Linked DNA regions of Homo sapiens. The protein of the gene in region 1 purifies or fractionates together with the protein of each later gene. This does not show direct contact. Each region holds a gene or a part of one and is shown on either strand. Other genes may lie near its edges.

Evidence for each region.
Region 2: the proteins of CELA2B (region 1) and MRM2 purify together in Homo sapiens (affinity purification with mass spectrometry; 3 studies listed by BioGRID and IntAct, with this or other methods). This does not show direct contact.
Region 3: the proteins of CELA2B (region 1) and ATXN2 purify together in Homo sapiens (affinity purification with mass spectrometry; 3 studies listed by BioGRID and IntAct, with this or other methods). This does not show direct contact.
Region 4: the proteins of CELA2B (region 1) and RPUSD2 purify together in Homo sapiens (affinity purification with mass spectrometry; 3 studies listed by BioGRID and IntAct, with this or other methods). This does not show direct contact.

The regions. Positions count from the first base shown.
Region 1 is NC_000001.11:15,479,072-15,486,107, reverse strand, and holds part of CELA2B (chymotrypsin-like elastase family member 2B preproprotein), read right to left. Parts: intron 5,011-7,036; coding exon 4,913-5,010; intron 3,844-4,912; coding exon 3,715-3,843; intron 2,845-3,714; coding exon 2,708-2,844; intron 208-2,707; coding exon 62-207; intron 1-61. UniProt on the Homo sapiens protein: Acts upon elastin.
Region 2 is NC_000007.14:2,239,202-2,246,247, forward strand, and holds the start of MRM2 (rRNA methyltransferase 2, mitochondrial), read right to left. Parts: upstream 3,005-7,046; 5' UTR 2,969-3,004; coding exon 2,961-2,968; intron 507-2,960; coding exon 217-506; intron 1-216. Other genes in the region: NUDT1 (oxidized purine nucleoside triphosphate hydrolase), read left to right, coding at 3,791-3,847, 5,362-5,525. UniProt on the Homo sapiens protein: S-adenosyl-L-methionine-dependent 2'-O-ribose methyltransferase that catalyzes the formation of 2'-O-methyluridine at position 1369 (Um1369) in the 16S mitochondrial large subunit ribosomal RNA (mtLSU rRNA), a universally conserved modification in the peptidyl transferase domain of the mtLSU rRNA.
Region 3 is NC_000012.12:111,589,283-111,596,318, reverse strand, and holds part of ATXN2 (ataxin-2), read left to right. Parts: intron 1-7,036. UniProt on the Homo sapiens protein: Involved in EGFR trafficking, acting as negative regulator of endocytic EGFR internalization at the plasma membrane.
Region 4 is NC_000015.10:40,572,277-40,575,463, reverse strand, and holds the end of RPUSD2 (pseudouridylate synthase RPUSD2), read right to left. Parts: intron 1,938-3,187; coding exon 1,203-1,937; 3' UTR 515-1,202; downstream 1-514. UniProt on the Homo sapiens protein: Pseudouridine synthase that catalyzes pseudouridylation of mRNAs.

The DNA.
Region 1 (7,036 bases):
CCTCTTCCCATCCCCAGCCACATTTTGTCATGGAGCGGGGCCCCTGATTTTTGGTACTCACGTTGCAGGTGCATATCACGCCATCACCCCCAGCACAGATCATATTCGTCTTCACGGTGCTGCCCCACCAGCCAGAGCTGGAGCAGGTGGCATAGTCCACAACCAGCAACTGGCCCTGCTTCAGGTCATCAGGGAGAGCCCCGTTGGCTGAATGAGACCAGAGAGAAGCCATTAGGGACGCAGGGACTCCTGAGAAAAAGGAAGTGGTGGACCCCTACTGGATTTCCCCTGTTACCATCTTCCATCCATTGCAACATGGGAACAGCCATGTTTGTCTATACTGTGTCCTCACATTTGATTGGTTAGTGTGCTGGCCACTGGTGATTGGTTCAGCAGTGAACACCTAACTCAAGCTAAGCCAATGAACTCCCTCCCCTGAGATTTTGAGATGGGGACTAAGAGATTCCGGTTCCAGAGGATGCAAATCTTGGAAGCTGTTGTCAATGGCTGACATTTTCTTCTATGTGCAGAAGAATGAAGTAGACCCACAAAGAAAGAAATTTCTCAGTGAGTGTTTCCTGAGTTTCTCACAGGCTTCCAGCCCCTGATTCTAGTCTCTTCCTGATGCCTGGCTATATCTCTGCCCTTGGGTTGAAACTTTTAAATCCTTATAACAATTTCCCTTTTTTTGCTGAGCTAGCTCCATGGCTTTCTGTCACTTATCTGAAATAAGAAAGTGAGCCTCCTGGCAGTTAGAGCCCCCTCCTTGGGTGTGGTGAAGGGAGGGCTTTCATAATGGCCCCCAATGACACAGCCACCATCACCTCCATTACTGTTACCACAGCTATGAGTGGCAAGGATGAGATTAACATAATTTTTCACTTGCTATTGAAGCCAAGGGAAGTTAAGCGTCGGCCAGGCATGGTAGCTCACCCTGTAATCCCAGCAGTTTAGGACGCCAAGGCAGGCGGATCACTTGAGGTCAGGAGTTCGAGACCAGCTTGGCCAACATGGTGAAACCCCGTCTCTAGTAAAATATAGAAATTAGCTGGGCGTGGTGCACATGCCTGTAATCCCAGCTGCTCAGGAGGCTGAGGCAGGAGAATCGGTTGAATGTGGGAGGCAGAGGTTGCAGTGAGCAGAGATTGTGCCACTGCACTCCAGCCTGGGCGACAGAGCAAGACTCTGTCTCAAAAAAAAAAAAAATCAAGCTTTTTGCTTAAGACCATTCTAATTAATAAGTAATTAACACTTGTGTAACATTTTGCAATGTGTGATGCATTTCCACCTTTCACCTCTTTTAGTCTTCACCAACAGTGTTTCCATTTTACAGATGAGGAAACTGAGGTTCGGAAGTGGCTTGCCCAAGGTTTCACCGTGACCGACAGAGCTGGGCCGAAAAGCCAAGCATTTGGAGGCCTCCCCACTCTCACTGTCTCAGATGAAATGCACCTGCCCCAGGGTTGGCTGGGGAAACAAACAGGTGGTTGTGCTTGTATCTTAATAAGCATGAAATGCCTCTTCCACCACCACTCACCGCAGGATTTGATGTGTCCTTGTGTTTACAGATAAGCCAGTCAAGAGGGCAATGGGAATTTATTTGAGGGTACGTATGTGGATGTACCCCTGGAAAAACATGTCATTATACTTATGGGTTTATGTCATTAGGAAAAAATGTCATAATGTCATCATCACTAATAATGTCATTACGGTCATAAGGTCATTATCACTCATCCCTTCCTAGAATCTTCCAAACCTCTGGTGTTTTCACAAGGGAAGGGCGGGAACTCTGTTCCTCTTGGTGGCTACTGTCATTGGATCTCTGACCCTTGGAGTCTATGTCAAAGAAGACCCACCCTCAGCCGGGTTCTCAGTAGCAAGACCAAATGGCACAGGGGACAGCTTTTGCTATGGGGCATGGAGGGTCTGATGAGGGCTCCAGGGGCCTTTGTGGAGCTCCAGAGACCTCAGGTCACAGAGGAAATGCTGTTCTGAACTCTAGCCTTGGGCCACACAGAAGATGTCACATGATCTCTGTAACTTTCTTTCCATCATAGGGACAGTGACAACAACTAACACACAGCACCTACCACATGCCAGGCTTCCTGTGGATTATCTCCTTTAATCCTCTTGACAACTCTGTGATGTAGGTGGTATTATTATGCCTTTTTTTTTTTTGGAGATGGAGTCTCGCTCTATCCCCCTGGCTGGAGTGCAGCAGCGCAATCTTGGCTCACTGCAACCTCCGCCTCCTAGATTGAAATGATTCTTGTGCCTCAGGCTCCCAAGTAGCTCGGACTACAGGCGCACAACACCACACCTGGCGAGTTTTTTATATTTTTAGTACAGACGGGGTTTCACCATGTTGGCCAGGCTGCTCTCAAACTCATGACCTCAAGTGATCTGCTCGTCTCGGCCTCCCAAAGTGCCGGGATTACAGGCGTGAGCCACCGCGCCCAGCCAATTATTTGCATTTTACATATGAGAAAAGTGCAGCTTGGAGAGACCTAGTAATGTGTCCAAGGTGTCACAGTCATTAAGTGGGAGAGCTGACATTTGAACCCAGGCAGACATCAGCCTATGCCATCCTGTCTCTCCAAGGCAGCCACATGCCCAGGATAACATGTGAGGTGAGAGGCCCTGGCCGGACAGGGGTGACATCACCTCCCTTCCCTCCCAGGCCTGGGGGCTCCTGGCTCCCACTTACTCTGCAGCCTTCCCCAGCCCGTGACGTAGCAGGGGTAGTTGTTGGGTAGAATGGTGCCGGCAGGAGGGAGGCAGGCCAGCTGGATCTTGTCGGTGAGGGAGACGGGGTTAGCCAGTTTGAGCAGGGCAATGTCGTTCCTGGGTGAGTGCGGAGGCGGAGCATGAGAACAGGGTTGACTTTTCCTGCCCTATGGGGCTTTGGAGGGCTTGGAGACCTTGTCATCTTCCCTGTACGTTACCCCAGGTTGCTCTGACCGGCAGGGCCCACAGGGCATGTTTGAAAATGTAGAGGGTCGGCCAGTCACGGTGGCCTGTAATGCCAGCCTGTAATGCCAGCCTGTAATGCCAGCACTTTGGGAGGCCGAGGCGAGTGGATCATGAGGTCAGGAGATCGAGACCATCCTGGCTAACACAGTGAAACTCCGTCTCTACTAAAAATACAAAAGATTAGCCGGGCCTGTGGTGGTGGGCACTTGTAGTCCCAGCTACTCTGGAGGCTGAGGCAGGAGAACGGTGTGAACCCAGGAGGCGGAGCTTGCAGGGAGCTGAGATTGTGCTACTGCACTACAGCCTGGGTGACAGAGCGAGACTCCATCTCACAAAAAAAGAAAAAGGAAAAGAAAAAAGAAAATGCGGAGGGCTTTGTTGAAAGGGGGAAGGCAGGAGAGATTGTGTCCTACTCCAGGGACAGTCACAGGGTCGACAGCACTGTCTCTGTGTCCCCAGGACTTGGCATGAAGTAGATACACACTCAGCGGACAGGGGCCCTGCAGGCTTAACTGGCAGCAAACCCAGGTCGCTCTGGCAGTCTTTGCTTCACCCTCCCCAGGTCACATCCCCACCCCAGACATCTTTGGAGCCGGTTCCACATCTAATAGGCCAGAGCTCCTTTCTCTTCCCTATAGAAAAAGCAGAGGGGGTGTGGTGGGGTTGAGACCTTTGCCTCTGTGAGACCCCCATCTGTTCCCTGACAACCTCACCCCCAAGTGCACCCAGATAGAAACGAACCCTTTGGAGACCTGGTCGGAGTTCCAGTCCTTGTGCACCACAATCTTAGAGACACTGACGGCCAGCGAGCCGGACTCTGCAACGTAGAGGTTATGCTGGCCCAGCATCACGCGGTAGATCCCGGAGGAGCTGGGAGAAAGGGGTCCCAGGGAGAGGGTCACCTCCAGAGGCCTGGCTTTGAATAATGCTAGGGATAGACCCAAGTAACTGGCTGCTTCATGAGCCACTAGTTGGCACTTGGGGATCTTTCCTCCCCTGGGACAGTCAGTTAGTTATCATAGGGCCTAAAGTATATAATGTAAGAACTATGATCATATAATAATTGTTACTATACTAACTATAAACTACAATTTAAAATTAATGTTGTAATAGCACAAACTCTATAGTATTATGGAGGAATGAGATGAACACAGAGAAAACAGGAGTCATTTGCCCTCAAGGAAATTTTCAACCTTTTATTTTCAGATGGGGAAACTGAGGCCCAGAGAGGAGTAACTGGTCCGGAGTCCCACCGTTAGTGAGAAATCAGAACTAGAAGCCAGGACTCCTGACTGTAGGCCTCTATTAGTATCCCCATCACCTCCTAGAGCTTATTATAAGTCGGATGGGAGAAGGGATCACTCCTGGTAGGGAGTCACACTGACCCGGCAGAAACTCCGGTGAGTTCCAGCTGTGATGAGCAGAGGTCACGGACAAAGAAGAGGATAAGTGAACAACGTTGCAGAACCTTGTGGGCCTTTATAATTTGTCTGCAATTCAGAATTAGCTTTCATTGAGCACTTAATAAGTGCCAGGCACTTTAGCAAATCAATTGCTGAGTCCACACTAAATTCTGTTACTCCATTTTCTGCAGGTGATGGTATTGAAGCTTTGAGAAGTCAGTTAAGTTGTTCAAGGGAACCCAATTCCAGACACTGAGGCCACATGTAGTTTCCCCAAGAGGGCAGAGATTGGGCCTTCCCCTCCTCTTCATCCTCCCTCAGTGCCTGCCTGGCACAGACACTCCATCCATGCCATGAAATGACCCATGGGTGGGCCAACACACTGAACCATTGATTGACTACAGCTTGTGTCTCGGCCAGGCTAGTGGTTATTTGCAAGGTTACTTCATGTAGTGTGGTTCAGGCCATTTGAGCCCCCAGCTCAGAAATGAGCACCGGCTGGTGAGCAGGCCAAGCGCCCAGGGAATGGCAGTTACCTGATGCAGTGGGCAGCCGTCAGGACCCAGCTGTTGGCTATCAGGGACCCTCCGCAGGTGTGGTACCACTGGCCATTGGAGCTGTACTGCAGGGAGACCTGGGGAGAAACACAGGTCTGTGGCTGTGGCTGAAAAAGCAGGGCCTCCCTGCACTCCAGTTTCCCAAGAACGGGGCTGGGACAAGGGTAAGGGGGAGTGAGGCACTCACCTCAGGTACACAACTTAAGGGGGCACCCAAAACCTCAGCCATGAAGATAAAAAACATTTTAATGCAATCTATAGTAAAAAAAAAAAAAATCAGGCCAGGCATGGTGGCTCATGCCTGTAATCAGAACACTTTGGGAGGCCAAGGCAGGAGGATGGGTTGAGCCCAGGAGTTTGAGACCAGCCTGGGCAACGTGGTGAAACCCCGTCTGATATGGTTTGGCTGTGTCCCCACCCAAATCTCATCCTGAATTATAGTTCCCATAATCCCCATAGGTAGGGGGAGGGACCTGCTGAGAGGTAATTGAATCATGAGGGTGGTTACCCCATGCTATTTTTGTGATACTGAGTGAGTTCTCATGATATCTGATGGTTTTATAATGGGCCTTTCCCCCTTTTGCTTGGCACTTCTCCCTGCTGCCACCGTGTGAAGAAGGATGTGTTTCCTTCCCCTTCTGCCATGATTGTAAGTTTCCTGAGGCCTCCCCAGCCATGCTGAGCTGTGAGTCAATTAAACCTCTTTCCTTTATAAATTACCCAGTCTCAGGTATGTCTTTGTTAGCAGTGTGAGAACGGATTAATACACCGTCTCTACAGAAAAATACCCCAAAATTAGCCACTGGGTGTGGTGGTGCATGCCTGTAGTCCCAGCTACTCAGGAGGCTGAGATGGGAGGATTGCTTGATCCTGGGAAGTCTAGCTTGCAGTGAGCTGCGATTGCACTGTGCTCAGCCTGGGTGACAGAGTGAGGCCGTCTCCACAGGGGATGTCCTGTCAGCTCTACCTTGAGAATTTGTGGAGTGGTTGCTACCCTTTGGTCACTACCTCAACTGTGTGTCGCAATCACCCTCTCTTCTCGATGATCATTCTAGTCTCCCATCTCTTCTCCCCATTCCCACCCACATTTTCTCAACACAGCAGCCAGACTGATCCTTTTTGAATGGAAGTCAGATGACTTCTCTTCTCTGCTCAGACTCTCCAGTGGCTCCCCCTTTACAGTTTGCAAAACTTAAAACTGTCTGATGACCTGCTAGGCTCTCCGTGGCCTCTCTGACCCCATAGGCTCCCACTCTCCTCTCCTCCAGCCACACTGACTTCCATGCAGTTCTGCACATACACCAAACCCGCTTCTGCCTCAGGGCCTTTGCACTGGCTCTTCCTCCTCCCTGGAATATTCTTGCAAATATCGGCGTAGCTCTTTCCTTCACTTCCTGTCAGTCTCTGCTCAAGGTTGCCTTCTCCATGAGGCCTTCTGTGACCACGCTATCCCAAACAATGTGCACACACACATGCGTGCACGCTCATGTACATATGCACACACAGACACACTTGTCTCTTTCCCCTTACTCTGCTTTACTCTTCATAGTATCTTTCGTTTTCCGGCGTGTTATTAGTTTACCTATTCAGTTGTTTATTGTCTCTTCCACTTTATTTATTTTATTTTTTGAGATGGAGTCTCCCTCTGTCGCCCAGGCTGGAGTGCAGTGGCACGATATTGGCTCATTGCAACCTCTGCCTCCCAGGTTCAAGCCATTCTCCTGCCTCAGCCTCCCCACTAGCTGGGATTACAGGTGCCTGCCACCATGCCCTGCTGATTTTTTTTACTTTTAATAGAGACGGGGTTTCACCATGTTGGCCAGGCTGGTCTCCAACTCCTGACCTCAGGTGATCCACCTGCCTCAGCCTCCCAAAGTGTTGGGATTACATGCGTGAGCCACTGTGCCTGGCCACGTCCTTGTTTTTAATTAGCCACTGGGCATTTCTCGTTTTTGTGACATTAAGGGGCCTTAGATGAACTGGCTTTTAAAAAGATGCTTAAAATTGGACCAAGTGAAAAAAGACACTGAAAAGTATCTACTCCCCCACCCCAATTTAAAAATGTGCTGAAACCATCCTACAGATGGGAAATTTCGTCCACGT
Region 2 (7,046 bases), on another chromosome or scaffold:
GTGATTTCCATGTTCACTGCACCTTTCTACCTTGTCTTTCATTTTGAAAATGGCAGCATCCTATTTTTATCATCACCATTGCTAAACCACCCACTCGGAAGCACACGCCTTCAAAAAAGGGCTCCACCATCCCGCATCCACTGGCAAAGGCAGCTTGCCCATGCCCACTCAGCCTCAGGGGAGCCAGAAGGTGCCAACAGCAGTGCAGAGGCCCACCTGTGCCTGCGGCGTTGACCTTCTGCACCGCCACCTGACTCCAGGCCCCAGGAGCTGCCCCACAGTCTAACACCCGAAGGCCGGGCCGCAGAATCTGGTGCCTCTCGTTCACCTCCAGGAGCTTGAAGGCGCTTCGACACCGGTAACTCTCCACCTTCGCAGCCTTCACAAATGGGTCCCTGAGATGTCGGGTCAGCCACAGGTGCTCAGCGCCTGTCCGATTCTTGCAGCGACTCCCAACAGTGTGGAACCCTTGACGCTGAAAGGAAACACACACCAGCTTCAAGTACCTGGTGGGAGAGAAGAGGAGCAGGCAGGTTGGCATCACACAGAACGGCAGGTCATGAGCTGGGAGGGCCCTCGGATCAACTCATTCATTTCTAGAGATGGGGCACCAAGGCCCAGGAGGGGAGGTGAACTGATAAGGCTACACAGATGGAAAGCAGGCATCACAGGCCAAACTGTGTCCCCGCAAAATTAATGTGTTGATGTCCTAACCCTTGGTACCTCAGAATATGGGGGTATTCGGAGACACCTGTAATTCCAGCACTTTTGGAGGCCAAGACAGGTGGATCCCCTGAGGTCAGGATTTCGAGACCAGCCTGGCCAACCGTGGCCAACATGATGAAACCCCGTCTCTACTAAAATGCAAAAATTAGCCTGGCGTGGTGGCAGATGCCTATAAACCCAGCTACTCGGGAGGCTGAAGCAGGAGAATCGCCTGAACCCAGGAGGCAGAGGTTGCAGTGAGCCGAGATTGCGCCACTGCACTCCAGCCTGGGCGACAGAGCGAGACTCTGTCTCAAACAATAACTAAATACATCAATTAATTAATTAAAGTAATATTATTTTCTCATCTGGCAAAAATGTTCATTGGGCTCTGACAGGCTGCAAGAAAACCTCATAAGGACAGATCCTTGCCTTAGTGACCTAGTTCCAGGGCTTTGACAGCTAGTACAGAGGGTCTGGCCTGTCACATTTCTTTTTTTCTTCTTTTTTTCGAGACAGGGTCTCGCTCTATAGCCCAGGCTGGAGTGCAGTGGTGAGGTCACGGTTCAACGCAGATTCGAACTCCTGGGCTCAAACAATCCTCTCACCTACATGTCTTAAATAAAATTGAACTAAACCTGTGTCAATCGTTGAAGGACAATTTCCAAGATTCTCTAGACAATTGTTACAATAAATGTAACAATTTATTCACAGCCCACAATAGCTAAGCAGGTGGAAGCTATACACACCTCCCCTTGTTTAACTCTGACAACAACCTCACCAAGGAAGTTCTATGTCCTCTTTTTCTTTTTTTAAGACGGAGTCTCACTCTGGCGCCCAGGCTGGAGTGCAGTGACAGCTCACTGCAGCCTCCGACTCCCGGGTTCAAGCAATTCTCCTGCCCCAGCCTCCCAAGTAGCTGGGATTACAGGCACACCTGCTACCATGTCCGGCTAATGTTTGTATTTTCAGTATAGATGGGTTCCACCATGTTGGCCAGGCTGGTCTCAAACTCCTGACCTCCGCTGATCTGCCCGCCTTGGCCTCCCAAAGTGCTGGGATTACAGGTGTAAGCCACTGCACCCAGGCATTTCTTTCTTCTTTTTGTTTTTTTAGAGACAGGGTTTTACTATTACCCAGGCTGGAGTGCAGTGGCATGATCACAGCTGACTGCAGCCACAGCCTCTGGGGCTCAAGTGAACCTCCCACCTCAGCCTCCTGAGTAGCTGAGACTACAGGTGTGTGCCACCACTTCCGGCTAATTTTTCTATTTTCAGTAGAGATGGGATTTCACCATGTTGGCCGAGCTGGTCTCGAACTCCTGACCTCTGGCGATCAGCCCACCTTGGCCTCCCAAAGTGCTGGGATTACAGGCGTGAACCACCTCACCCGGCCATTTTTGTTTTGCTATCATCCAGGCTGGAGTTGCAGTGGCACAATCACAGCTGATTGCTGCCATAACCTCTGGGTCTCAAGTGAACCTCCCACCTCAGCCTCCTGAGTAGCTGGGACTACAGGTGTGCACCACCATGCCTGGGCTAATTTTTTTTTTTTTTTTAATTCTTAAAAACCTTTTTTAGAGATGGCATCTCACTACATTGCCTAGGCTGGTCTCGAACTCCTAGGCTCAAACGATCCTCCTGCCTCAGACTTCCAAAGTGCTGGGATGACAGGTGTGGGCCACCAAGCCCGGTCTCTATGTCCATCTTTCTGATTTAAATAAATAAATAAAAGTTACCACCCTCATGGCTCCAAGGCCAAAGCTTCTAGCTTCTGCAACACCAAAGCGTGCTGACAAGCCAGGAGGCACTGACTGCTGACCGTGAGTCGCTGTCTTCCCCTCGCTTAAGGGGTCTCCCGGGAAAATGGCACAAGCCGGTCCCGGGGGCCAGGGCCCACTCGACAGCCCAGGAAGCGCGGGCAATGGAGCTACCCGGCCCAGAAGCGAAATCCCGCCCCGGGCTCGCCCCCGGCGCCTTGGATCTGGGCCCCGGCGCTGCGCCCCCCACCTGGACTCCGCCGCCGGCCCCGGCCTCCCCACGGCCCCGCCGGCCCTGCCCCTGGAGACCTGAGGGCGCCCTCCTCCCGGGGAACTGCGACCCGGAATCCTGGCCTCGCCCCTGTCGCGCTCGCTGAGTGCGGGGACGGTGCCCAGCGCTCGGCACCCAGCCCCGAGGCCAGGACCGAGGAAGGCGACCGGGCGGACCCCCAACCACTCCCGCTGTCTGCACGCGCAGCAGCAGCGCCCAGCTCACCCCGCCATTGGTGTTCCCCGCGCCTGCAGCGCGCCGCCGGAAGTGCCTGGCCTCACTTCCGGTCAGAGGCCACGCCCCCGGAAGCGGCGGTGCAGGTACGAAAAGCGCGCGCGGGGATTCCAGGAGTCGTGGTGACCAGGGAGGGGAGCCGGGCCAGCGGGCGGCAGGAGACTAGGGGAGCTGAGCCATGGGCTTGGGGGAGAGCGGGGCCGGGAGCTCGAAGGAGACCAGAAGAGCAGGGTCGGGGGCTCGAGGGAGACGAGGAGAGCGGGGCCGGGGGTTTGGGAGAGAGACAAGGAGAGCGGGGCGGAGGCTTGGGGGAGACCAGGAGTAAATCACAAAAATTTACTTTGGAAACCGTGGCTTCTGGCAGAAACAGATCAGTGTCGGGACAAAGTACACGGGCCTGGTGTGAAACTAAGCCACAAACCCATTTACCCTGTCTGACCTGCCTCCGCCACCAGGACCCAGTCTCAGTGAAATGGGAAAGGTTCCCTTGTCCTCCTCGAAGGGCGTGCGATGAGGATGTGGCTCACTTCTTCAGTGCCCCGCTTCTCAAGCCTCTAGGGGAACATACAGACAGGCAGGCTGAGGGGCTCCCACCCCACGGCAGTGTCTAGGGGTGAATGTTTGCAGCTCCTGAAGCCCCAGCAGGCATGTGTTAGAGGGTGCTCTTTCAGTTTAGCCTTGTAGGTGGCTTGTGTTAGTCAGCTGTTAGACTCCCTGCCTTATCGCAAGGACAGAGGGCTTTCTGTATCCCTAGGTTTCTTGCCTTGATGTACTGGAGCAATCAGATCACACGGCGGCTTGGAGAGTGAGTGCAAGGTTTTATGAGTGGAATTAGCCCTCAGCAGATGGGGGAGCCAGAAGGCAGTTGGAGTGGGAAGGTGATTTTCCCCTGGAGTCGGGCTGCTGAGCAGCCTGGGCTCTCCTCTGACCGCCCCTGCCAAACTCATGGTTCCATCAGTTGATGGCCTGCTGGTGCCTGTTGGTGTGCTTTCCACGTCCTCTTGACGTCCAGCGGCTTGTGTCTCTGCCCACTATAAAAAACCACTGGGGTTTTTTTATAGGCACAGGACGGGGACGTGGCGGGCTCGGGAAATGCAACATTTGGGCAAAAAAACAGAAATGCCTGTCCTCACCCAGGTCCCTGGGCACAGGCCTGGGTGTGGAGCCCTGGCCAGAGACCACGCCCTCCTCTACCCAGCACTTCCCTGCCCCCTTCCTTATCATCTGGTCCCTTTTCTCAGACACCACAACTTCCAAGAAGGATCACTGGTCCTGAACCCTGTGTCTTGTCCAGGTGTGGACCCCAGAAAAGTTGGTCCTGGCTGGGCGCAGTGGCTCACGCCTGTAATCTCAGCACTTTGGGAGGCTGAGGTGGGTGGATCGCTTGAGCTCAGGAGTTCGTGACCAGCCTGGGCAACGTGACAAAACCCCATCTCTACTAAAAATACAGAAATTAGCTGGGTGTGGCGGCTCATGCCTGTGGTCCCAGCTATGTGGGATGCTGAGGCAGGAGGATGGCTTCAGCCAGGGAGGCGGAGGTTACAGTGAACCGCGATCACGCCACTCTCCTCCAGCCTGGGCAACAGAGCAGGATCTTGTCTCAAAATAAATAAAGGAAAGTTGGTCCTGGCCCTCCAGCATTTCTCCAGGGTCCTTTTTTCAGCAGGGACCTGGCGGAGGCATCGCCCTCAGAGTCCTCTGGACCTGGACCTGCACACCTATGGGAGCAGGAAGGACCCTTGTGACTTCCAGTGGCCCCCCTGGGTGCCAGGTCCCACAGTAGCCACAGCAGGAGCAGAGTGGGTGGGGTATAAACTCCTATCACAGGAGGGAGGACTAGCCGGGCCTGGCTGGGTGGACCTGTGTCTACAGCCACACATTTCCTGGGAATCTGGAAGCCTGCTACAGAGAGGCCAGGTCCCACTAGACTGAAAGAAGTTCCTGTTAATCCAAAGGCCTGACCTGAGGACCACAGGATAAACTGCGTGGTTATTTTGGTGCCAATCAGGCACGGGGACTGTTGTTCCTCACTGTGTGCCTATAAGCAGGGGGTTCCTGGGGGTAGACGCAGGAGCAAGAGCACGCTCTGGAAAGGTGATGTTGTCCTCTGCACCTGAGTACTGACTTGTGGAGAAGGAAGGTAGCGCCGGCCTCTGCTCTGCTTGATCAGCCCTGCTGACCACTGGGTTCTGTTTCTACCCCAGAAAATCACTGGTTCAATGGCAGTTTTCCACCTGCCACAAGGGAAGCCACACGTGGCAGGGCTGGGGAGTTACAGCATACCCCCCCGCCCCCCACTGCCTCCCAGAGCACGTCCCCTTCCTCCTGGCCCCTGGCACGTGCTTCCTCCACGCACGTCATGGCTGACTCTGCCCTCTCACCTTCCTTTCAGAACCCAGGGACCATGGGCGCCTCCAGGCTCTATACCCTGGTGCTGGTCCTGCAGCCTCAGCGAGTTCTCCTGGGCATGAAAAAGCGAGGCTTCGGGGCCGGCCGGTGGAATGGCTTTGGGGGCAAAGTGCAAGAAGGAGAGACCATCGAGGATGGGGCTAGGAGGTAAGGATGGGGCAGGTCTGGCCATAGAACCGGCTTTCCCAGGGCACAGGGATTCGGGCTGTAGGGCCACACCCTTGGTTTCACCACTAAGAGCTAAGTGACCTGGAGCAGGGGGTTAAGCGTGAGCCTCAGTGTCTTCATCTCAGAATGAAGAACAGTCCGCAGCCCTTCGGACTCTTGTGAAGATAAAATGAGGAAATGAACTCGAAGGACTTAGAACGGTGCGCGGTGTGCGGTGCGTGCTGAGTGCGTGTTAGCTGTTGTGGTGCGGTGGTGCTGGGGGCTGCAGGGCGTATCTGGAAGCCTCTGTGCAGCAGCTTGAATTGAACCCTCCCAGCACCCTCACTGTTGCCGAAGGGCTCGTCAGTCACTTGGTTCCTCTGTCTGTTCAGTGGAGCTGATGATCGCTTTCATCTCACACTCGCTGTGCACAAAGCCTCACTGCATCCTCAACACAGCCAGCTTCACCTAGGAAGGAACTGAAGCCCAGAGAGGTTGAGCCGTTTACCCAAGATCACACAGTCCTCCAGACGCCCCTCAACCCTCACAGGGTAAATGAGATCATCTGTGTAAACATCGCTGCACAGACGTTAGCCCCCGTTCGTGTTTTTGTTCTGAGAAAGGTAGGCCAGCTTGCCTGGAGAGGAGAACTACAGAGTAAAGAGGGTCCTGGCACGGAGGAAAGCCAGGACGCTGCAGCCTAGTGGCTTTCCAATTTTTTCATCACAACCTGCAGTAAGAAATACGTTTTGTACTCTGATAGAGTGTACACACTCAGGTGTGCAGGTACAGCTAAAGTAAGTTGCAGTAGCCGCCCTTATTACATAAAAGGGGGCTCTACTTTTCCGATTCATTTCTCTTTTTTTCTCCAGAGGTGGGATCTCACCCATGGCACACTCTTGGCTCACTGCAGCCTCAAACTCTTGGGCTCAAACGATCCTCCTGCCTCAGCCTCACGAACAGCTGGGACCACAGGCACATGCCACCACGCTCAGTTCGTTTTTTAATTCTTTGTAGAGATGGTGTCTCATTAACTCCCAGGCTCAAGCGATCCTCCCTCCCGGGCCTCCCAGAGTGCTGAGATTGCAGGTGTGGGCCACTGGCTTGACCCTTTTTTTTTTTTCAATTGCAATCCACTAAGCCGATTTCCCGGGGTACATGGGTCCCAACCCTCAGTTTGGAGAGCCCTGTGTGTGCTTCCCCTCCAAGGCTTGGGACCCCAGACCGCAGCCACACGGACACGTTCGATCAGTCACTGTGGCAGGTGCCAGTGCGACAGGCTCTGTGCTGGGGGCCGCAGCTGGGGAGGAGGACCACTGGGTGTGAGTCGGGCATACAGCGTGTCCCTGCCAGGAGTGTGTGCAGAGCGACCACAGCACAGGAAACAGGAAAGGTGGCCCCGGGGGTTCTCTGCCCAGCCCTTTGTCTTTGATCTGCTAAGACTGCCCATCAGCTCATGGATTTCTGTAGCGCTGCTCTGTGTGGGGCCTGGGGACATGAGGAGGAACAGGTCAGTCCCTG
Region 3 (7,036 bases), on another chromosome or scaffold:
TTTGAAGGTGGCTGTTTTAGGAAAGATAATGTAATCACAATATTAGAACATAATTTTACTGTAATCTAATTTTGTGTGTGTGTGTGTGTGTGTGTGTGTGTGTGTGTGTGTGTTTTGGATGGAATCTCACTCTGTCGCCCAGGCTGGAGTGCAGTGGCCTGATCTCAGCTTACTGCAGTCTCTGTCTCCTGGGTTCATTTAAGTGATTCTCCAGCCTCAGCCTCCCCAGTAGCTGGGATTACAGGTTCGTGCTACCACACCTGGCTAATTTTTTTGTATTTTTAGTGAGGACGGGATTTTGCCATGTTGGCCAGGCTGGTCTCGAACTCCTGACCTCAAGTGATCCGCCTGCCTTGGCCTCCCAAAGTGCTGGGATTACAGGCGTGAGCTACTGCCCCTGGCCAATTTTTGTATTTTTAGTAGAGATGGGGTTTCACCATGTTGGCCAGGCTGGTCTCGAACTCCTCCTGACCTCAAGTGATTCGCCAGCCTCGGCCTCCCAAAGTGCCAGGATTACAGGCAGGAATGAGCCACTGCCCCCAACCATCAGTCTAATTCTTATTTTTGCTTTTTACCTTTTCATTTTTATGTAGTAGAGGTGATTGTGTATGTTATTTTGTAGTTAGCTTTTTTCCCCTGAACGTTGTATTGTAAATGTAAATTTTTTTTTTTTTTTTTGAGACAGAGTCTCGGTGTTTGCCCAGTCTGAAGTGCAGTGGTACGATCTCAGCTCACTGCAGCCTCTGACTCCTGGGTTCAAGCGATTCTCCCACCTCAGCCTCTTGAGTAGCTGGGGCTACAGGAATGTTCCACCACGCTTGGCTAATTTTTGTATTTTTGGTAGAGACAAGGTTTCACCATGTTGGCCAGTTTGGTCTCGTACTACCGACCTCAGGTGATGCGCCCGCCTCGGCCTCCCAAAGTGCTGGGATTGCAGGCGTGAGCCACTGCGCCCGGCTGTAAGGTTTTTACTTAACCATTCTATTGTTGGGAATTGGGTTTCCACTTTTTTGTTATAGATAGTGGTGCAGTGAACATTTTTAAATAGCTTTTTGCTTCAGTGTAATTATTTCCTTAGAGAAAGTTACCAAGAGTGGTTTTACTAGTTCAGAGGGCTTCAGGATTTTTATGGCTCTTGCTAGCGGTGCTCTATTATTCTTTAGAAGACTTGTATTACTTCCAGTGTCAAGAAGGTTGCTCTTCCATGGAATGGTTTCTTTGTAGTTTGTCAAATATTGTGGGGAATTTTTAAAGGAAAAATTGCATTTTTACTGTCAAGTGCATATATTATTAAGTGCTTTTGTTAGTTACTGGATTATTGATATTTGAGTTTAATTTGGTTCCTCTGAGGATTTAATAAGGTAATATATGTGAAGATGTTTTGAAACCTGTAACCATTATTATTAATGAGGGTACTTGGTTTATCTGTCGTGCTGATAGTACTGAGTAAAGTGCAGGAATGAAATTCCTGAGGAACTGTTCTAAAGCTTTGTTGTTGTTGTTAACCTTTCTTTTTCATCTGAAAGTGTTTTTTATTAGCTGCTAGCCTATGACCAAGTTATTTTTGGTAACTTTTTTGTAATTTCATGGCACTATTGGGAATTTTCGCTGGTTGACTCTTCTTCTTCTACATTCCCTTCCCCATTAAAAATAAAAATATGGATTTACAATTGTTACTCTATTCCTAAACCTAAATAATATGACATTAGAATTGCTTGGGATACAGGATTCAGTCTGAATAAAATATTTTTCTTTTAGTGATTTTCAGCTTAGTATTTTTACTGCTTCTTTCTCTTGAGGCATTGCAACTTAAAAATTGTGCTGTTTAGCCAGGCGCCTGTAATCCCAGCTACTTGGGAGGCTGAGGCAGGAGCATCACTTGAGCCCAGGAGGCGGAGGTTGCAGTCAGCTGAGATTGTGCCACTGCACTCCAGCCTGGGAGACAGAGTGAGACTCTATCTCAAAAAAAAAAAAAATGTGCTGTGATTTAATGTAGTTGTTCATCATGCTTCCATTTAAATTTCAGTGAGACTGTTCATCTTTTGCAGTTAAATATCTTGTAGAAGGGCCTAAAATATCTACGTTGAATACAGCTTTATTGAAGCATCTATGTACATGGGGTTTTTGGGATGAATCAGTGAATAAAGCAAACATATTGTCCTTTTGGAGTTTACATTCTAATGTGACTAGGCAGACAATGAGACATTAAATTACCAGCCTATGTATAATAGTGTATAAGAGCTATGGAATTAGAAGAAAGCAGATTAAAGGTATAGGGAGTGTGGGGAGGGGAATGAGTTACAATTTTAAATGGATTGGGGGAACTTAATTGAGGAGCTAACATTTGAGCAAAGATTTGAAGGTTGGGTATTTAGCCGTTTGCTTTTTATCTAGGTTAATTAGTCATGTGGCTTCATTAGTAATTTATAAGGTTTAAATGGCATCATCCTTTGTTATTCTTTTATGTGCACATTGATACTAACCATCTCTGAAGTTAGACCAAAAAAGTTAATTGACATTGAGGGTCATTAGAGGTAAATTGTAGATGGCTATTACTAACCAAAGAGACATGTTTTGTTTTTCTTTTGGGCTTACGTATTTTACCTAATTAGTTTAGTTTTTGTTTCAAGTATGTGGAGAAAATAAACTTTTTAAGTTTGGGCCAAAACTTGCTTTGGTTTTCTTTTTCTTTTTCTTTTTTTTTTTTTAAGAGAAAAATGTAAGCCTGTAGTTGCTTAAAGATTCCACATTCTGAAACAGTGAAAACATGGGATCAGTCATGGTGTTCCTTTTTTTGGTTAAATGTAAACTTGTATTTTCAGTGTTACTCTAATTAGCAATGGTTTATACTTCTACATAAGGGATGTTAACTCATATTGTAGCTATTTAATAGCCATATATTTTGACTTAAAGGAGGATCTCAAGGCCAGGCGCGGTGGCTCATACCTGTAATCCCAGCACTTTAGGAGGCTGAGGCGGGTGGATCACCTGGGGTCAGGAGTTTGAGACTAGTCTGGCCAACATGGTGAAACCCCCATCTCTACTAAAAATACAAAAATTAGCCGGGCATGGTGGTGGGCGCCTGTAATCCCAGCTTCTTGGGAGGCTGAGGGAAGAGAATTGCTTGATCCCGGAGGTTGCAATGAGTGCGGAGGTTGCAGTGAGCTGAGATCATGCCATTACACTCCAGCCTGGGCAACAGAGCGAGACTCTGTCTCAAAACAAACAAACAAACAAAAAAAGGAGGATCTCATTTTTTTGTCCTAAATAGCTACAGCCGTGTTAGAACTGTCACCTTAGCAAAGTATTGTTTTTTTACTTTGAAACGAATTTTAAGGTTTTAGAAGATTGTTCTCTAGAATTACAATTTTCTGTTTTGACTAGTGATAGTATTTTGATGTTGTGTAAATAGTTGAGCATGAACAAAACCCTATTTTTTTTTTTAGCTATTTCAAGTGATTGTGACAACTTCAACGGAGATGTAAACAGTTTATTAACAGTCACACCTATTATCTTTTTTTTTTTTTTTTTTTTTTGAGACGGAGTCTTGCTCTGTCGCCCAGGCTGGAGTGCAGTGGCACGATCTCTGCTTACTGCAACCTTTGCCTCCCGGGTTCAAGTGATTCTCCTGCCTCAGCCTCCTGAGTAGCTGGGTCTACATGCGCACACCACCACGCCTGGCTAATTTTTGTATTTTTAGTAGAGACAGGGTTTCACCATGTTGGCTAGAATGGTCTCAAACTCCTGACCTCAGGTGATCCACCTGCCTCAGCCTCCCAAAGTTCTGGGATTACAGGCATGAGCCACCGTGCTTGGCCGCTGCCGTATCTTTTTAAATGAAAGTACTTGTGTTTTTTTTGTTTTTTTCCAAAGGATATCTGGGTCATCTATGATGTTACTGTTACCATCTAAGGGTTTTTTTGTTTGTTTTTGAGACAGAGTCTCTGTCGCCCAGGCTGGAGTGCAGTGGCGTGATCTTGGCTCACTGCAACCTCCGCCTCCCAGGTTCAAGCAATTCTCCTGCCTTAGCCCTCCCGAATAGCTGGGATTACAGGCACCCGCCACCATGCCTGGCTAAGTTTTGCATTTTTAGTAGATATGGAGTTTCACCATGTTGGCCAGGCTGCTCTTGAACTCCTGACCTCAGGTGATTCGCTTGCCTCGGCCTCCCAAAGTGCTGGGATTACAGGCGTGAGCCACCCCCGCCCAGCCTCATGAGCTAAGGTGTTTTTTTTTTTTTTGAGACAGTTTTGCTCTTTCCCAGGCTGGAGTGCAGTGGTGCAATCTCAGCTCACTGCAACCTCTGTTTCCCGGGTTCAAGCGATTCTCCTGCCTCAGCCTTCTGAGTAGCTGAGATTACAGGTGCCTGCTACCCCACTCAGCTAATTTTTGTATTTTTAGCAGAGACAGGGTTTCACCATGTTGGTTAGGCTCATCTCGAACTCCTGACCTTAAGCGATCCACCTGCCTTGGCCTCCCAAAGTGCTGGGATTATAGGCATGAGCCACCGTGCGCAGCCTACCCTGTCTCTTAAAAAACAGTAACAACAACAACAACAACAAAAAATCCTAAATCTTAAAAATGGAAGGCAAAAACTCTAAGCTTTGAGAGATTAGGGGACTTGCCCAAAGCAATATTTGTAGGATTTTATTACACCTCTCCCTTTATTTATTTTTTTAGAGTCAAGGTCTCCCTCTGTCACCCAGGCTGGAGTGCAGCCTCAATCTATGGGGCCAAGCATTTCTCCTGTCTTAGCCTCCTGAGTAGCTGGAACTACAGGTGTACACCAGCTGGCTAACATTTAAATTTTTTGTAGAGACAGGGTCCTGCCATGTTGCCCAGATTGGTCTCAAACTCCTGGGCTCAAGTGATCCTCCTGCCTCAGCTTCCCAAAGTGCTGAGATTACAGGTGTGAGCCACTGCACCGAGCCCCCTCCCTTTATTTTTATTTTTAAATTTTAAGTTCTGGGGCCCCTCCCTTGAAATAAATAGAAACGTAATATATACACAAGATCATGCTGTGTATTTTAAGGCAATGGTCCTCAACCTTTTTAACACTAGGGACCGGTTTTGTGGAAGATGGTTTTTCCATAGGGGCAGGGGATGATTTTGAGATGAAACTGTTCCACCGGCCGGGCACGGTGGCTCACGCCTGTAATCCCAGCACTTTGGGAGGCCGAGGCGGGCAGATCACGAGGTCAGGAGATCGAGACCATCCTGGCTAACATGGTGAAACCCCCCTCTACTAAAAATACAAAAAAATTAGCTGGGCGCGGTGGAGGGCGCCTGTAGTCACAGCTACTCCGGAGGCCGAGGCAAGAGAATGGCATGAAACCCGGGAGGCAGAGCTTGCAGTGAGCTGAGATAGCACCACTGTACTTCAGCCTGGGGGACAAAGTGAGACTCCGTCTAAAAAAAAAAAAATTGTTCCACCTCAGATCATTATGCATTTGTTAGATTCTCATAAAGAGCATACAACCTACATCTCTTGCTATATGCAGTTCCCAGTAGGGTTTGTGCTTCTATAAGAACCTAATGCTGCACCTGATCTAACAGGTGGGGCTCAGGTGCTAATGCTCACACAGCTCCTGTTGTGCAGTCTGGTTCCTAACAGGCCTGTTTTTTTTTTTTTAATTAGATGGAGTCTCGCTCTGTCACCAGGCTGGAGTGCAGTGGCACGATCTCAGCTCACTGCAACCTCTGCCTCCCGGGTTCAAGCGATTCTCCTGCCTTAGCCTCCCATGTAGTTGGTACTACAGGCGCACACTGTGATGCCCAGCTAATTTTTGTATTTTTAGTAGAGACGGGGTTTCACCATGTTGGCCAGGATGGTGTCGATCTCCTGACCTTGTGATCCGCCCAACAGCCTCCCAAAGTGCTGGAATTACAGGCGTGAGCTGCTGCGTCCGGCCCCCTAACAGGCTTGTTTTATGGAATACAGTCACGGACAGTACTTGCCCTTCAGGATATCTTTTTGTAACCTTGATTTTGGCTTGCTAAAATAGGAGGTCTATTTTCTTTTCTTTGTTTTTAATGTATGTGGTTCTGTACTTACGTGGTGTGAAATCTACATAAATGTTAAATCCTTGGTTATTTATTTATTTTGAGACAGAGTCTCACTCTGTCACCCAGTCTGGAAAGCAGTGGCATAATCTCGGCTCACTGTAACCTCCACTTCCCAGGTTCCAGTGATTCTCCTGCCTCAGCCTCCTGAGTAGCTGGGATTACAGGCATGCACCACTACACCTGGCAAATTTTTGTATTTTTTTTTAGTAGAGATGGGGTTTCACCATGTTGGCCAGGCTCGTCTTGAACTCCTGACCTTAGGTGATCTGCCTGTCTTGGCCTCCCAAAGTTTTGGGATTACAGCATGAGCCACTGCGCCTCGCCTTATTTTTTTGAGACAGGTTCTAGCTCTGTCACCCAGGCGGGAGTGCAGTGGTGCCATCATGGCTCATTGCAACCTCGAGTTCTCAGGCCCAAGTGATCCTCCTATCTCAGCCTCCTGAGTAGCTGGGACCACAGGCATGCGCCACTATGCCCAGCAAAATTTTTGTTTCACTCTGTTGCCTAGGGTGGGGTGCAGTGGCAGGATATCGGCTCAGTGCAACCTCTGCCTCTTGCGTTCAAATGATTCTCATGCCTCAGCCTCCCGAGTAGCTGGGATTATAGGCATGCGCCACTACACCTGGCTAATTTTTGTATTATTGGTAGAGATGGGGTTTTATCATGTTGGCCAGGCTGGTCTCGAACTCCCGACCTCAGGTGATCCATATACCTTGGCCTCCTGAAGTGCTGGAATTACAGGCATAAGCCACTGCGCCTAGCTTTTTTGTTTGTTTTTATTTTGTAGGGACAGAGATTTTACCTGTTGCCCAGGATGGCCTTGAATTCCTGACCTCAAACAATTTGCCCTCCTTGGCCTCCCAAGGTGCTGGGATTACAGGTGTGAGCCACTATGCCTGGCTGGTTTTTTAAATTATTATTATTGTTTGTGTGTGTGTGTTGCAGGATCTTACCCTGTCACCCAGGCTGG
Region 4 (3,187 bases), on another chromosome or scaffold:
AAGTTGGGCTGTTAGTCTTTTTGCTAAGACTCTCACATCCAGAATATATAAAGAACACTTACACTCCACAACAAAAAGACTAACAACCCAGAATGAGATGCCACTTCACTCCTACTAGGATGACTATAATCAAAACAAAACAAATGTTGGTGAAGATGTAGAGAAATTGAAACCCTATGCTTGCTGGTGGCAATATAAAATGGTTCAGCTGCTGTGGAAAAGTTTGGTGGATTCTCAAACATTTAAACATAGAATTACCATATGACCCAGCAATTCCACTGTGAGGTATATACCCAAAAGAACTGAAAACATATTTAATGTTCACAGCAGCACTATCCACAATAATGAAATGGTGGAAACAACCCAAATGTCCATTAACTGATGAACAGATAGACAAATCGTGGTATATCCATACAACAGCTTATTCTGCCATAAAAAAAGAATGAAGTACCGATACATGCTACAAGTTGAATAAACCTTGAAAACATTATGCCAAGGGAAACAGAGACATAGGTCACATGTTTTATCATTCCATTTATATAAAATGTCCAGAATAAACAGGCAAATCCAAACAGACAGAAAGTAGATTAGTGGTTGCCAGAGGCTGGTGGAAGGGGAGTGGAAAGTGACCACTTACTTAATGGGTACAGGTTTCCTTTTGGGGTGATGAAAATGTTTTGGAAATATATGAGGTTATGGTTGTACAACACTGTGAATGTACTAAATGTGACTACGCTGTACATCTTAAATTGGTTAATTTTTTTTTTTTTTAAGAGACAGGGTCTCACTCTGTCACCTAGGCTCTGGAGTGCAGCAGCACAATCACAGTTCACTTTAACCTTGAACTCTTGGCCTCCAGTGATCCTTTCACTTCTACCTCCCAAAGTACTAGGATTATAGCCATGAGCCACTGTGCCTGGCTAGTTAAAGTGGTTAATTTTATGTTATGTGAATTTTACATCAGTAATAAAAAAGAAGCCGGAAGAAAACCAGACATCAAAGATGTTAGAAAAAGGGATATATTTACAAACCAAAAAGTCTCCAAATTCCCACTGGAAGGAGGTAGCAAGTATGAGCAGGTCTCTTTAGAAGCCCGTCCTCATTCCTATAGAAACCCCAAGTACTAGCCCATGGGGTCAGCCCTTGCCCTATAGCCCATCCTTGTCACAACCCAAGAAGCAATCCCTCCATTGGCCACACCCTCAGTCCTTTTGCCAGTCATCCTGTGCCCAGGCAGGCATTGGTGAAAAGTACTCAAAGCCTGGCCCTTTATAGCGTAGGGCATGTAGGAACATCACAAGGTCTTGGGGCAAGGGATCCTGTCGCACCAGCCGGCACTCTGCACAGAGTGGGTCTGTCTCTTGATTCATGACATCTGTTTCAACTGCCTTCTCTGATGCCAAGGCTATTGTGTCCAACTCCTGAGGGGCTGCCTCAGCTACTTCCTCCATCTTCTGGGCAGCTGCAGCCAACTCTTCCAGGTCGTCCTTGCCCAACTCTGAGGAGGGGGCCGTAGAGTCTGTGAGTCCTGGGGACAGGTCACCCTCACAGAGATCTAGCACATCCAGGCTCTGTTTGGCCTGGTGCTCTGCTACCAGGTCCCGTAGCAACTCCTCGTTTGTCTTGGGAATGTAGCCGCCCCGGCCTCGAGAAGGACCCCAGGCAACTGAGTTGTAGATGGGGTCGTTGAGAATGGGATGGCCCAAGAACTGAAGGTGGACTCGAATCTGGTGTGTGCGGCCTGTGAGTGGCCGGCACCGTACCACACTGGACTGGCCATTGTAGCTTAGCCTCTGGAACACTGTCTCACAGGGCTTGCCCCGGGGATCTACACGGCACACCCCTACTTTGTAAGACACCACTAAGATGGGTTCTTTACAGGTCACTTCCTCAGTGGGGAACTCCCCTTCCACCCGGCACACGTACTCCTTCTCCAGCTACATAGGAGGGAAGAGGGAGAAAGTCAGTACAAAGCCTAAATTCATGGAGTCCAAACTCTTTGTGGAGTGATAAGGACCAGTGTCAGAAAATTCAAACTCCAGCTCTACCATTCGCCAGTTTTGCGATCTTGGGTACATTACTTAACCTCTAAATCCTACTAACTCATCTAGAAAATGTGAAATTAGAAAAGCATTTACCAGCTGGGTGAGGTGGCTCACGCCTGTAATCCCAGCACTTTGGGAAGCTGAGGTGGGTGGATCACCTGAGGTCGAAAGTTCGAGACCAGCCTGACCAACATGAAGAAACCCCGTCTCTACTAAAAAATACAAAATTAGCCAGGCGTGGTGGCGCATGCCAGTCATCCCAGCTACCTGGGAGGCTGAGGCAGGATAATTGCTTGAACCCAGGAGGCGGAGGTTGCAGTGAGCCAGGATCACACCATTGCACTCCAGACTGGGCAACAAGAGCGAAACTCCATCTCAAAAAAAAAAAAAAAAAAAAAGAAAAGAAAAGAAAAGCATTTACCTCATTGGGCTGTGATAAGCATTCAGTAAGTTAGGCTCTAATGTGCTTGATACTAAGCCTGGTATATAGCATGCACTCAATAAATGTATTATGATTCAGATCCAGAATTACAAGTCTCAGGACAACAATCATTACCATTAAACTCCTCTACCCAAGACTTTTCCAACTACATCTAGAATCTTTTCACCAAGCAGGCTCTCCCCATAATCTTAAAAGCCTTGCTCAGCCTGTCAGCACTTTATTTTCTTATGTTAATTTATTTCTTTGAGACGGAGTCTTGTTCTATAGCTCAGGCTGGAACGCAGTGACATGCTCATGGCTCACTGCAGCCTCAACCTCCCATGGCCAAGTGATCCTCCTATCTCAGCCTCCCAAGTAGCTGGGACTACAGGCATGTGCCACCATGCCAGGGTAAGTTTTTTTTTTTTTTTTTGAGACAGAGTCTCACTCTGTCACCCAGGCTGGAGTGCGGTGGCGCGATTCGGCTCACTGCAAGCTCCACCTCTTGGGTTCACACCATTCTCCTGCCTCAGCCTCCCGAGTAGCTGGGACTATAGGTGCCCGCCACCACGCCCAGCTAATTTTTTGTATTTTTTTTTAGTAGAGACGGGGTTTCACCGTGTTAGCCAGGATGACCTCGATCTCCTGACCTCGTGATCTGCCCGCCTCGGCCTCCCAAAGTGTTGGGATTACAGGCGTGAGCCACTGCGCCTGGCCTTTT